3 linked regions of the Homo sapiens genome follow. The protein of the gene in region 1 purifies or fractionates together with the protein of each later gene. This does not show direct contact. Each region holds a gene or a part of one and is shown in the gene's direction. Other genes may lie near its edges. The genes, in order: TSPOAP1, CEP170 and CPVL.

Region 1 (3,651 bases):
TTGGGCCCTGTTGTCCAGAACACCCAGGAGGCCAGGCCATGGGTGACGGAAGAAGGGGACCCTGATCTTATTTGCGTTATCAGGGAAATAGCAAATTGGGCAGGTATCTCTGATGGGGAGCGTCCTGCATCACTGGGTCTTGTGCCCCCCTGCCCCCAGGCCCACCTGATGCCCCTCTGGATGTGCAGATCGAGCCTGGGCCCTCCCCTGGGATCTTGATCATCAGTTGGCTCCCAGTCACCATCGATGCTGCTGGCACATCCAACGGTGTCCGGGTCACAGGCTATGCCATCTACGCTGATGGGCAGAAGGTATAGCCCTGCCCACTGTACCCTGGGAGTGGGGGTGGGTCCCTTCTTGCTATGCTCAGAGGTCTAGGCTCTCTGGCTTGGCACGGAGATGCCCAGCCCCTGGCATTTGGGTACCATGAGGCAGATGGGTTAAGAGCATGGGCTTTGGCAGCACATGACAGATTTTAGAACTGTTCCATCACTGAAGCCATATGGCCAGGAGGATGAAATGAGATAGGCCATGCAGAGGGCTTAGCACAGTACCTGGCGTAATGCTAGCTGCCACTGCTGTCAGTTAGCTGCCACTGCTGTCAGTGCATCCTCACGCTTGGCTGTCTCAGCCTCTGCTTCCCATCCTGTGCCCCCTCCACCCTGCAGATCATGGAGGTGGCCTCACCCACGGCAGGCAGTGTACTGGTGGAGTTGTCCCAGCTGCAGCTGCTGCAGGTGTGTCGTGAGGTGGTCGTGCGCACCATGTCGCCCCACGGGGAGTCGGCGGACTCCATCCCGGCTCCTATCACTCCCGCCCTGGCTCCGGCCAGCCTGCCAGCCCGAGTCTCCTGCCCCTCACCGCACCCAAGCCCAGAGGCCAGAGCGCCCCTTGCTTCAGCCTCCCCAGGGCCTGGAGACCCCAGCTCTCCTCTCCAGCACCCTGCTCCCCTTGGAACTCAAGAGCCTCCAGGAGCACCCCCTGCAAGCCCTTCCAGAGAGATGGCAAAAGGGTCCCACGAGGACCCTCCAGCACCTTGCTCCCAGGTACCCTGTCTGGGGAGAGGGGAGCAGGTGCAGGCTGGCAGAGGGACCTGGGCTTGGGTCCTTCCTCAGTGCTCTCTGTTCCAGGAGGAGGCTGGGGCAGCAGTGCTGGGCACCTCAGAGGAGAGGACAGCCAGCACATCTACCCTGGGTGAGAAGGACCCTGGCCCCGCAGCTCCCTCACTGGCCAAGCAGGAGGCCGAGTGGACTGCAGGAGAGGCCTGTCCGGCCTCCAGCTCCACCCAGGGAGCACGGGCCCAGCAGGCGCCAAATACCGAGATGTGCCAAGGAGGAGACCCAGGGTCTGGGCTGAGGCCCAGGGCTGAGGTAGGGGTTTGGGGACACACTGTGTCACTTCAGAGAATTGAGGCCTGTCTCCCTACCTTTTGCCAGCGCAAATCCAGTTGCCCTCTCTGCCTGTCCTCTGCTCTGGTCCTGCTCTCACACCTTTGGCTGTGCTATGTGTCTGTTTTTCTTCTAGGATTTCTCTGTCCCATGTGGCTCCCATCTCCCTTCTCCCACCCTGCCCCTGAGCCATGGTGTGCCTCCCCCATTTAGGACATGGCTCTTTCTCCCTCTGCCAAAGGACCCTTGTTACTGTGGCTGGGGCTGACCCTGCCTGGAACCCCCTGTGCCCCCTCACTGTCCTTATCTCTCCTGCCTTGCCTCACTTCTTGCAGAAGGAGGACACAGCAGAGCTTGGGGTTCATCTGGTGAACTCCCTCGTGGACCACGGCCGCAACTCAGACCTGTCAGACATCCAGGAGGAAGAGGAAGAGGAGGAGGAGGAGGAGGAAGAGGAGCTGGGTTCCAGGACTTGCTCCTTCCAGAAGCAGGTTGCTGGCAACAGCATCAGGGAGAATGGGGCCAAGGTAACGGGGTAGGGATGGGCTGTTGGGCCCCAGGCCTCAAACTCCGGGGCCTCCCCACTGTGTGTCAGCAGGTGCTCTGACCACCACTGAGTGCCAGAAACATTCTAGGTCTGTGGCCTGGGCCCTGTCCTAAGCAGAAGATAGGAAGTGCCCCAGGATTGGCCCCTGCCCTCCTGGAAAGAAAGGGGAAGGGGAGGAGTTCATTTCTGTACCTTCTCTCCCTCCAGCCCACCAGATACAGCGCCCTGGCCAGGGGAGGCCGGTGCCACCTAAGATCCTTGTGCTGGTAGCTTCTGGGGAGGGGATGGGGAGGCCTGCTCCTCAATGCTCCTGTCCCACAGGGGCTGGTGATGGTTCCTAGAGTGTGTTCCCTAATTCTTCCTTTGGCTCTCACTGGATATGTGTGTGAATTTGGGCCAGCCACCGTCCCTCTGGTTCTCTCCTCTCGGAGGAAGCCGTGGGAGGGCTGTGGGGTTGTCCGTAACCCCTGCCTTCGTTTGAGGGCAAAGATCGCAGCTCGCTCTCCTCTTCCCCACGCATCTCTCTTCCCTGCTGTGTTCTACTCCCACCTCCCCACCTCCACCAGTCCCAGCCCGACCCCTTTTGTGAGACTGACAGCGATGAGGAGATCTTGGAGCAGATCCTGGAGCTGCCCCTCCAGCAGTTCTGTAGCAAGAAGCTCTTTAGCATCCCGGAGGAGGAGGAAGAGGAAGAGGAGGACGAGGAGGAGGAGAAGTCAGGGGCAGGCTGTTCTTCCCGAGACCCTGGCCCGCCTGAACCTGCATTGCTGGGGCTGGGCTGTGACAGTGGTCAGCCCCGAAGACCTGGCCAGTGTCCCTTGTCTCCTGAGTCCTCCAGGGCTGGAGACTGCCTGGAAGACATGCCTGGATTAGTTGGTGGAAGCAGCCGGAGGAGAGGAGGGGGCTCCCCTGAGAAGCCCCCAAGCCGCAGGCGGCCTCCAGATCCCCGAGAACACTGCAGCCGACTTCTCAGCAACAATGGGCCCCAGGCCTCTGGACGACTGGGCCCCACACGGGAGAGGGGTGGCCTCCCCGTAATTGAGGGCCCCAGGACTGGACTAGAGGCTAGCGGGAGAGGCCGGCTGGGCCCTTCCCGGAGGTGCTCCCGTGGCCGGGCGCTGGAGCCTGGCCTGGCCAGCTGCCTTTCCCCCAAGTGCTTGGAAATCAGCATTGAATATGATTCGGAGGATGAGCAGGAGGCGGGCAGCGGGGGCATCAGCATCACCAGCTCCTGCTACCCTGGAGATGGGGAGGCCTGGGGCACAGCAACTGTAGGAAGGCCCAGGGGGCCTCCGAAGGCCAATTCAGGCCCCAAGCCCTACCCACGCCTCCCAGCCTGGGAGAAAGGGGAACCAGAGCGGAGAGGCCGCAGTGCGACGGGCAGAGCCAAGGAGCCACTCTCCCGGGTCCGTGCTCACTCCCCGCCCTGGGCAGCCCCTGCCTGCTGCCACCTGGTGGCCCTGCTTGCTGCCCACCAGCAGCTCCCATTCCACGCTGCCTGCCTCCATCAGCAGAGGTGGGGCCGGGCCTCCGGGCTCCCTCACCTGCCTCCTCCCACCCACATTCCACTGCTTTGCTGCTTCTGCTGATCAGGACTGGGATGCACAATATTCTATCACTAGTCGCCTGTTGCGGCCTGTGGGCAGGGTCGCCCTTTCCTCTGCATAGCTAGTAATGGCTTCAGGACGCTGACTGTGATGCCATGTCCAGGGTTAC
Region 2 (3,651 bases), on another chromosome or scaffold:
GCACTGTTTTTGATGTCCTCACATTTGAGTGTAGAAGGCAGGTAAACAGTTAATTATAGTTCAGTGTGTTAAGGGAAATATAGGATGGTTACTATGGAAGCCCATAGCAAGGGCACTTGGGAAATTCAGAGAAGGGCTCTTAGAGAAATTGCCATGCAATTTAAGTCCTGAATGATGAGGAGAGGAGTTACTCAAAAGCTATGTGAAGTGAAAGGGCCAGAGTATGGTGAGAGATGACACTAGAGAGATGAGGATGGATCTGTTTTGGCAGAATTTGTTAAGGAGTTTGGATTTTATTATTAAAAACCATAGGAAGCTAATATATCCAATATGGGTCCTCTTGATACACCAGTGCTATCTGTAAAAATATCATGAGAGTCTTGTATGGTCATGTGGCTTGCACCTGGAAAACCCTGGAGTCTCCTTACCTGTAAACAAGTACACAGTGTTTTTTCATCCTACCTACTGAAATACAGGTCCGTCCCTGCTAACTGGAGTCTTAACCACTCATTCATTTATTCAGCAGATGTTCACAGATTACCTGCTGTGTACCATTCTCTTCCTTACCACGGAGCAGCTTTCCTACGTTCTGTAGTCTCCCCCAAAGAAAAATATTTTTTGTAGCTTTGACATTGAACTAAAATTGAGAACAAAGAAGACATTGCTGATGGATTGATAACCTGTGTTGTCTCAGAAAGTGACAGAATTTATAAAGTTTAAAAAAGGATGCATAAAAATGCCTCAATAAAGTTATACATAAATACAGAATGTTTAATGTATTTGAATTGCCTTCAGTTCGAGTGTTGAGTTTTACTATGCATAAAGCACTATGGCAGGCTTTATGGAAGGTAATGAGGATAAAACCATTTCTATTATTAAAGAGTTTCCAGTGTAGTTGGCAAGGTGAGGCACATATGCAATCAACTGTCGTACAAGATAGCGTATAATAGATTAGTGCTCAGTTAGAGATATAAAGGCAAAGGAAGGATCACTTTCACCTAGGAGGTTTAGGGAAGGCTTTGGGAAGAAGATACTATTCAAAGGTAGGTCTGAGTTGTGATAACCAAACCTAAGGGGTAGAGACCTGGGCCTTCTGCGTGGAAAGTGCCAGGGTAGTTTGAGAATCAACTGGTCTTTAAGCTTTGTGTCAGGAGTTATAACCTCAAATGTCTACTGGGGTTCATCCTAGAGGCATGCGTACTTACATTGTATGAACACTGTCTGTGGAATCCATTTTTAAATATTTATACAGGAACTCCTGTTGTACAGCATTCTCATTGCATTCCATGTGAAAATGACCCCCTTAGGTTGTGTAGCATGGCCTTGCATTGGTAGACTCTCAATTCGCAACTCCGCGTTCGCATGTTTTAAGGGCTAGTACTAGGGAATTGGTTATGGCTCATAGAATAGGAGCCTGAGACTTCTGTTTGTTTCCCTAAAACCAATGGCTTTATCAAAAGTATTTTAACTTAATTCTTAAATTATTGAATGAAATAAGCTTTGGAATTTTATGTATTTTCATGCTGAAGTTTAGCTTATTTTGAATCTATAATATAATCTGAATATCACTTTGAAAGCTATGATTTTTTCAGCTTAAAATTGATAAGGACCTTCAAACAAAAACAAGTTCTGGTCATTATAGCCTGGTCTAAACTAATTTCTTGGTCTGGTTTTCTGATTCTCTAGTATTTAAATATTAAATATTATAGTAAATATTATAGTAAAGTTTATTTCATAATGCCAAAATGACAAGTTTGACTTCTTAGATCTGTTCTATTATATATTACAAATTGTTTTTTGTTTTTTTGTTTTTTTGTTTTTTGTTTTTTGTTTTTGAGATGGGCTGGAGTGCAGTGGCATGTTCACAACTCACTCACTCAGTGCAGCCTCGACCTCCCTGGGCACAAGCAATCCTCCCACCTCAGCCTTCTTAGTAGCTAGGACTACAGGCATCTGCACCACACCTGCTAATTTTTTTGTATTTTTTATAGAGACGAGGTCTCGCCATGTTGCCCAGGCTGGTCTCGATCTCCTGGCATCAAGTGATCCACCCACCTTGGCTTCCTAAAGTGCTAGGATTACAGGCATGAGCTATTGTGCCTGGCCAACAAACTGTATTTTAAAATAAACCATTTATTTCTTCAGGGGGGCATTTTTTTTTCAGGGGCAACCCGTGAAAAACCCATTTTCACCAAAGGTGAAATGTCTATGGTTTAACAGTTTTAGATCCACAAACACTATACTCAGTAGCCATCCTCTGGAAAAATTCACTGAATTTTTAGCACTGTGTGGCTAAACAGAGTCTTTCTCTATTGTATAAGTCCATTACAGTTCTAAGCTGGTCCATGAAATAGTCATTATTTCCTTATTTTCCATCAGTCCTAATGCTGCAAGGACTCTTTTACAAGAACATAATAATTTAGAAAAGATGGCTGGCAAGGGTGTTCATTTTTTTGAGTTTAGAAAATTTAATAAGTAGGCCATAAGAATATTCTTATACCAGATTCTAGACCCGTTGCCACCTTAAGCAAATGTTCCAGACTTGATGTGATGTTAATGAGTTTCATGTTTTTAAATAAGGTAAGTCTGGCATGTTGATCTTTGAAGAAATACCAGCACAAATATTAACTTAGTTTACTACTTAAATGCTGATCAGCTTGCAGTAGTAATACATTTACATGAGGTTATATAGTGTTGTTTAAACTAGATTTCCAGGCTTACTGAAAAAAATTTAAAAGAAACCAAAAAAGTAGCTAGTATTTACATCTAAGACTGCTGAATCATGTCTGATAGACTCTAAAGTGTTAGAAAAGTGTCCCACATTTGAAAGACACGTCAAAATTTTGTGGTCCTTTATTTTATAAGTTATTTGATGTTAGGGTAATGATAGGATAATTATCTTTATTGGCAATTGTTTTTATCAAAAGGGTAGCATCCTAATTCCTAATAGGTTATTATGTGCAAGTATACTAACACGAATTAACAATTGTTAAAGAAAAGCACAGTAAGTACTCCCAATTTTTTGTCTTCAAAATAATATACACACTTTTCTTGATCGATAAGGTGCTTATTCCCATATAAAGAGGTCTTAACAGACACAATTGTTTATACCTAATTCAACCTATTTTCATCTCACTTATTCCTATACTGCATATATTCTGTCTGAATAAAATTGCATTTTCTTTATAAGTGACAGTTACACAGTCTTTTCTCCTTATACCCAGGTGATACATGTTGTTCCAAGATACCCACTGGATGCCTGACACCACAGATAATTCTAAAACCTAATATACTGTGTATTTTCCTACACATACATGCCTATGATAAAGTTTAATTTATAAATTAGGCACAGTAAGAGATTAACAATAGTAACTAATAATAAAATAGAACATTTGTAACAATATACTGTAAAAAAAAGTTATGTGAATGTGGTCTTTTTTTTTCTCTCTCTCTCTCTCCCTCTCCCAAAATACTGTAATAGTTACGGACCATGCTTGACTGCCACTAACTAAAACCATGGAAAGAGAAACTGTGGATAAGAGGGCATTACTGTATTGTAAATTATAAATATTAAAGTTTTGAGGTCATAACATCATTTACATTTGTTTTATATTTTGTTTTCAATAAAGAATAAGATAAACAGTAAAGAAT
Region 3 (3,651 bases), on another chromosome or scaffold:
TAGATAAAATGATACTTAGGACAGTAAACAACTTGTGGTTGAAATGTGTTTCAGTGACTGCAAAGGAAGACTCCAACAAATCCTGAAACCCAGGGGAATATAAATGTCAGAATCTCAAGCCTAAAATGATAAAGCCTGTTTGACGCTCTGATCCTTTAAAATGATTTAATTAATCAAAGAGTAGTAACTCAGAGCTGGAGAGTACTCTGGAGATAGGTCATCTACTGTCCCTATGCATTTACATGCACACACACACACACACACACACACACACACACACACACACACACACACACACACACATTTACTGGTGAGTGGAGAGGATGCCGAGCCCCAGGGGATAGCAATGAATTGCCGAAGGATACACAAATAGATTGTGGCAGGCTGAGGACTGGAATTGCTTCCCCCATTTCCACCACAGTATTTATCCTATGGTAATTTTCAGGCATTCTGTAAAAATCCTGGATCGTCTTAGATATTCTGCAAGATGTGAAATGACTGATCCTCTGTCCAGTATTACCTCCCTTTCCATGATGATTTTCTGAATCACAAAGTTCTTAGTTTCACAGGTCTTGACCACCCATGTTATTTTTTGACAACAACTGACTTTTTCTTTTTTTTTTTTTTTTTTTTGAGACGGAGTCTCGCTCTCTTGCCCAGGCTGGAGTGCAGTGGCAAGATCTCAGCTCACTGCAACCTCCACCTCCCAGGTTCAAGCCATTCTCCTGCCTCAGCCTCCCGAGTAGCTGGGATTACAGGCACTCGCCACCACGAATGGCTAATTTTTCTTATTTTTAGTAGAGACGGGTTTTCACCGTGTTGGCTGGGCTGGTCTCAAACTCCGGACCTCAAGTGATCCGCCCGCCTCGGCCTTCCAAAGTGCTGGGATTACAGCTGTGAGCCACCATGCCTGGCCAACAAATGACTTTTAACTCTTTCTAAAAGCAAAGTTATTCTTCAAGGTTGACTTTATATTCCCACTGGTGTTGAAGATAATTTCTAACAATGAGTTCCAAAAATGATGTGTGCATTCAGAATGACCCTGGCCTATGGTGCCCCATCTGGGTGAACAAATTAGAAAAAGACACCTCGGCCGGGCGCAGTGGCTCACGCCTGTAATCCCAGCACTTTGGGAGGCCGAGGCGGGCGGATCACGAGGTCAGGAGATCGAGACCACGGTGAAACCCCGTCTCTACTAAAAATACAAAAAAGTTAGCCGGGCGTAGTGGCGGGCGCCTGTAGTCCCAGCTACTCGGGAGGCTGAGGCAGGAGAATGGCGTGAACCCAGGAGGCGGAGCTTGCAGTGAGCCAAGATCGCGCCACTGCACTCCAGCCTGGGTGACAGAGCGAGACTCCATCTCAAAAAAAAAAAAAACAAAGAAAAAAAAAAAGAAAAAGACACCTCCTCTGTGGTGATGCAGTCCTGTGGGTTCAGGACGGGGCAGGCAGATGCCTCCATTGTGTGAGGATAAGAGGTGGCCACTTCTCCAGATGCAGCCCTGAGCCAGGCTCTCCAGCTCAGCGAGCAGAACTTTGGCTGGTTCCCTGTCCCTTTGCACCCCTTAGCCACAGGCATCGCATGGAGCTGCACAACCAGATGTGGGGCCCTGAGCAATGGTAGCATTGGTAGAGAATACTTACTACCACCTCCACCCACACCGCCTTCTATGGTGATAACCCTTTTCATTCTTGGCCTCTAGCCCCATGGCAATAGGAACTTGAATAAGTTCTTTCATGTTTGAAAAAGAATATGAATACAGGCCGGGGGCGGTGGCTTACACCTGTAATCCCAGCACTTTAGGAGGCCGAGGTGGGCAGATCACAAGGTCAGGAGTTCGAGACCAGCCTGATCAACATGGTGAAACCCCGTCTCTATTAAAAATACACACACACAAAAAAAAATTAGCTGGGCGTGGTGGCAGGCGCCTTTAATCTCAGGTACTCGGGAGGCTGAGGCAGGAGAATTGCTTGAATCCGGGAGGCAGAAGTTGCAGTGAGCTGAGATCTCACCACTGCACTCCAGCCTGAGTGACAGTGCGAGACTCCATCTCAAAAAAAAAAAAAAAGAATATGAATATAATAATTAGTCTATTTTCTCAAGCATTGAAGCATGGCCAGAAGGAATTGGCAAGTAGGAAGCATTGCAGGCTGACTGCTGGGAGCCAGTGTGTGCGTGGTTGAGTGTGCAGGCTCAGGAGTCGTGGCCTAATCATCTCATCTCTGACATTATTAGTGAGGTGTCCTCGGCAAGTTGCTTAAACTCATGTGTCTCAGTTTTCTCACCCATAAAATTAGAATAATAATACCTTATCTGATAAGAGACCTAAATTTGTACTTGATAGATTGTTTTTAACATGTGCTGACTTCATTTCTTTGAATTCTTTTGTAAGAACTCCTTACAACTTAATATCATCATCAACAACCCCCCTCCATGTCTTCAACCTCTTCTGTGACTATTTTCTTCTCTTCATCTTCTTGCTTTGCCAGAAACCTGGCTCTCCCCTGATGCTGCAGTCCCTGTGGTCCTCTTGAGTGGGGGCTGTTCTCTCTCTTAGCTTGTCTGTATCACTTGGTTCATAGGTGGAGTAGGTGTCTTCCTTGCTCATCATGTGACTTTCAGATCATGTTCCCTGCCTCCTCCTAAAGCATTGAGCTTTGACTCTCCTGTCCTCAGACAGGGCCTCTGACCACTTCCAACTGTGTCTGCCTACCAACCCCTGGTTACTCCCTCTCATTTGAATAGCTGAGCTCCTTCCTCCCTGTCACTCTCTGCAGCATTATTCTTGTCATAATTCCTGGTAACTGCAGGATCCACATTGACGATCCTTTTGGGACCTGGTCCTTGGTGCCTCAGCCTCCTCTTTTTCAATGATCTTGTTCTCCTCCTCATCTTAGCTGCTGATTCTCATACCCTAAAATGCTGGCAGCTGATCCACAATCACACATTCAAACATCTTTCTCCAACTACCACCTCCTGTCCGAATCTCTTCTGCTAATGTACTGATCTTACAGCCCTGCAACCTCACTACCTTTCAATCCATTGATCCTCCTGCCTCTCCACTATCTCTAACCCCCTCAAGTCTCCATTTCTCTAATTACCTGTCTTCAACCCAGGGTCAGTCATTCCATACATTTCCAAGCCCAAAGCTCTTTTGCATTTCTTCCAACTCCTTTGGCTGAACCACAGCCCTGGCTCAATCTGCCTCTCTGTCAGGCTGTGCTTGTCTCCACACAGCTGACAATGGCTGGAGGAAAGCATGCAACCATGCTGACTGCTCTCCCGCTCAGCTGGTGACTGGGTTTTTTAATGTCAGCCCAAAGATAACTTCCACCAGCTCCAGGAACCTGCATCTGCACCATATCCTGCGTCTTCTCTCCATGTCATCTGGTGAGCAGTTCATGATCCATGTTAAGGCACCCTTCCCACAAGGCTTACTCCCATAGGCAAGGCCTTTGAGCTTACTGTGTCCTCTGCCTGGAACCTTCCTTCCCCTAGATGTCTGCATGGCTCTATTCCTCTCATCCAATATGTCTTTACTCAAATGCCACCTTCTAAGTGAGGTCCTCTGTGACCTCCTCTCTACATTGTCCCATACACACATGCACACACATGACACTTCCTACTCCTCTTTAGTTTTCTCCTTGTCATTC

What was found.
Region 2: the proteins of TSPOAP1 (region 1) and CEP170 purify together in Homo sapiens (co-immunoprecipitation; one large-scale study listed by IntAct). This does not show direct contact.
Region 3: the proteins of TSPOAP1 (region 1) and CPVL purify together in Homo sapiens (pull-down; one large-scale study listed by IntAct). This does not show direct contact.

The regions. Positions count from the first base shown.
Region 1 is NC_000017.11:58,308,231-58,311,881, reverse strand, and holds part of TSPOAP1 (peripheral-type benzodiazepine receptor-associated protein 1), read left to right. Parts: intron 1-159; coding exon 160-311; intron 312-668; coding exon 669-1,046; intron 1,047-1,130; coding exon 1,131-1,370; intron 1,371-1,723; coding exon 1,724-1,915; intron 1,916-2,501; coding exon 2,502-3,341; intron 3,342-3,651. UniProt on the Homo sapiens protein: Required for synaptic transmission regulation. It probably controls the recruitement of voltage-gated calcium channels to the presynaptic membrane, and modulates neurotransmitter release.
Region 2 is NC_000001.11:243,129,665-243,133,315, reverse strand, and holds part of CEP170 (centrosomal protein of 170 kDa), read left to right. Parts: intron 1-3,651.
Region 3 is NC_000007.14:29,066,423-29,070,073, reverse strand, and holds part of CPVL (probable serine carboxypeptidase CPVL isoform b precursor), read left to right. Parts: intron 1-3,651. UniProt on the Homo sapiens protein: May be involved in the digestion of phagocytosed particles in the lysosome, participation in an inflammatory protease cascade, and trimming of peptides for antigen presentation.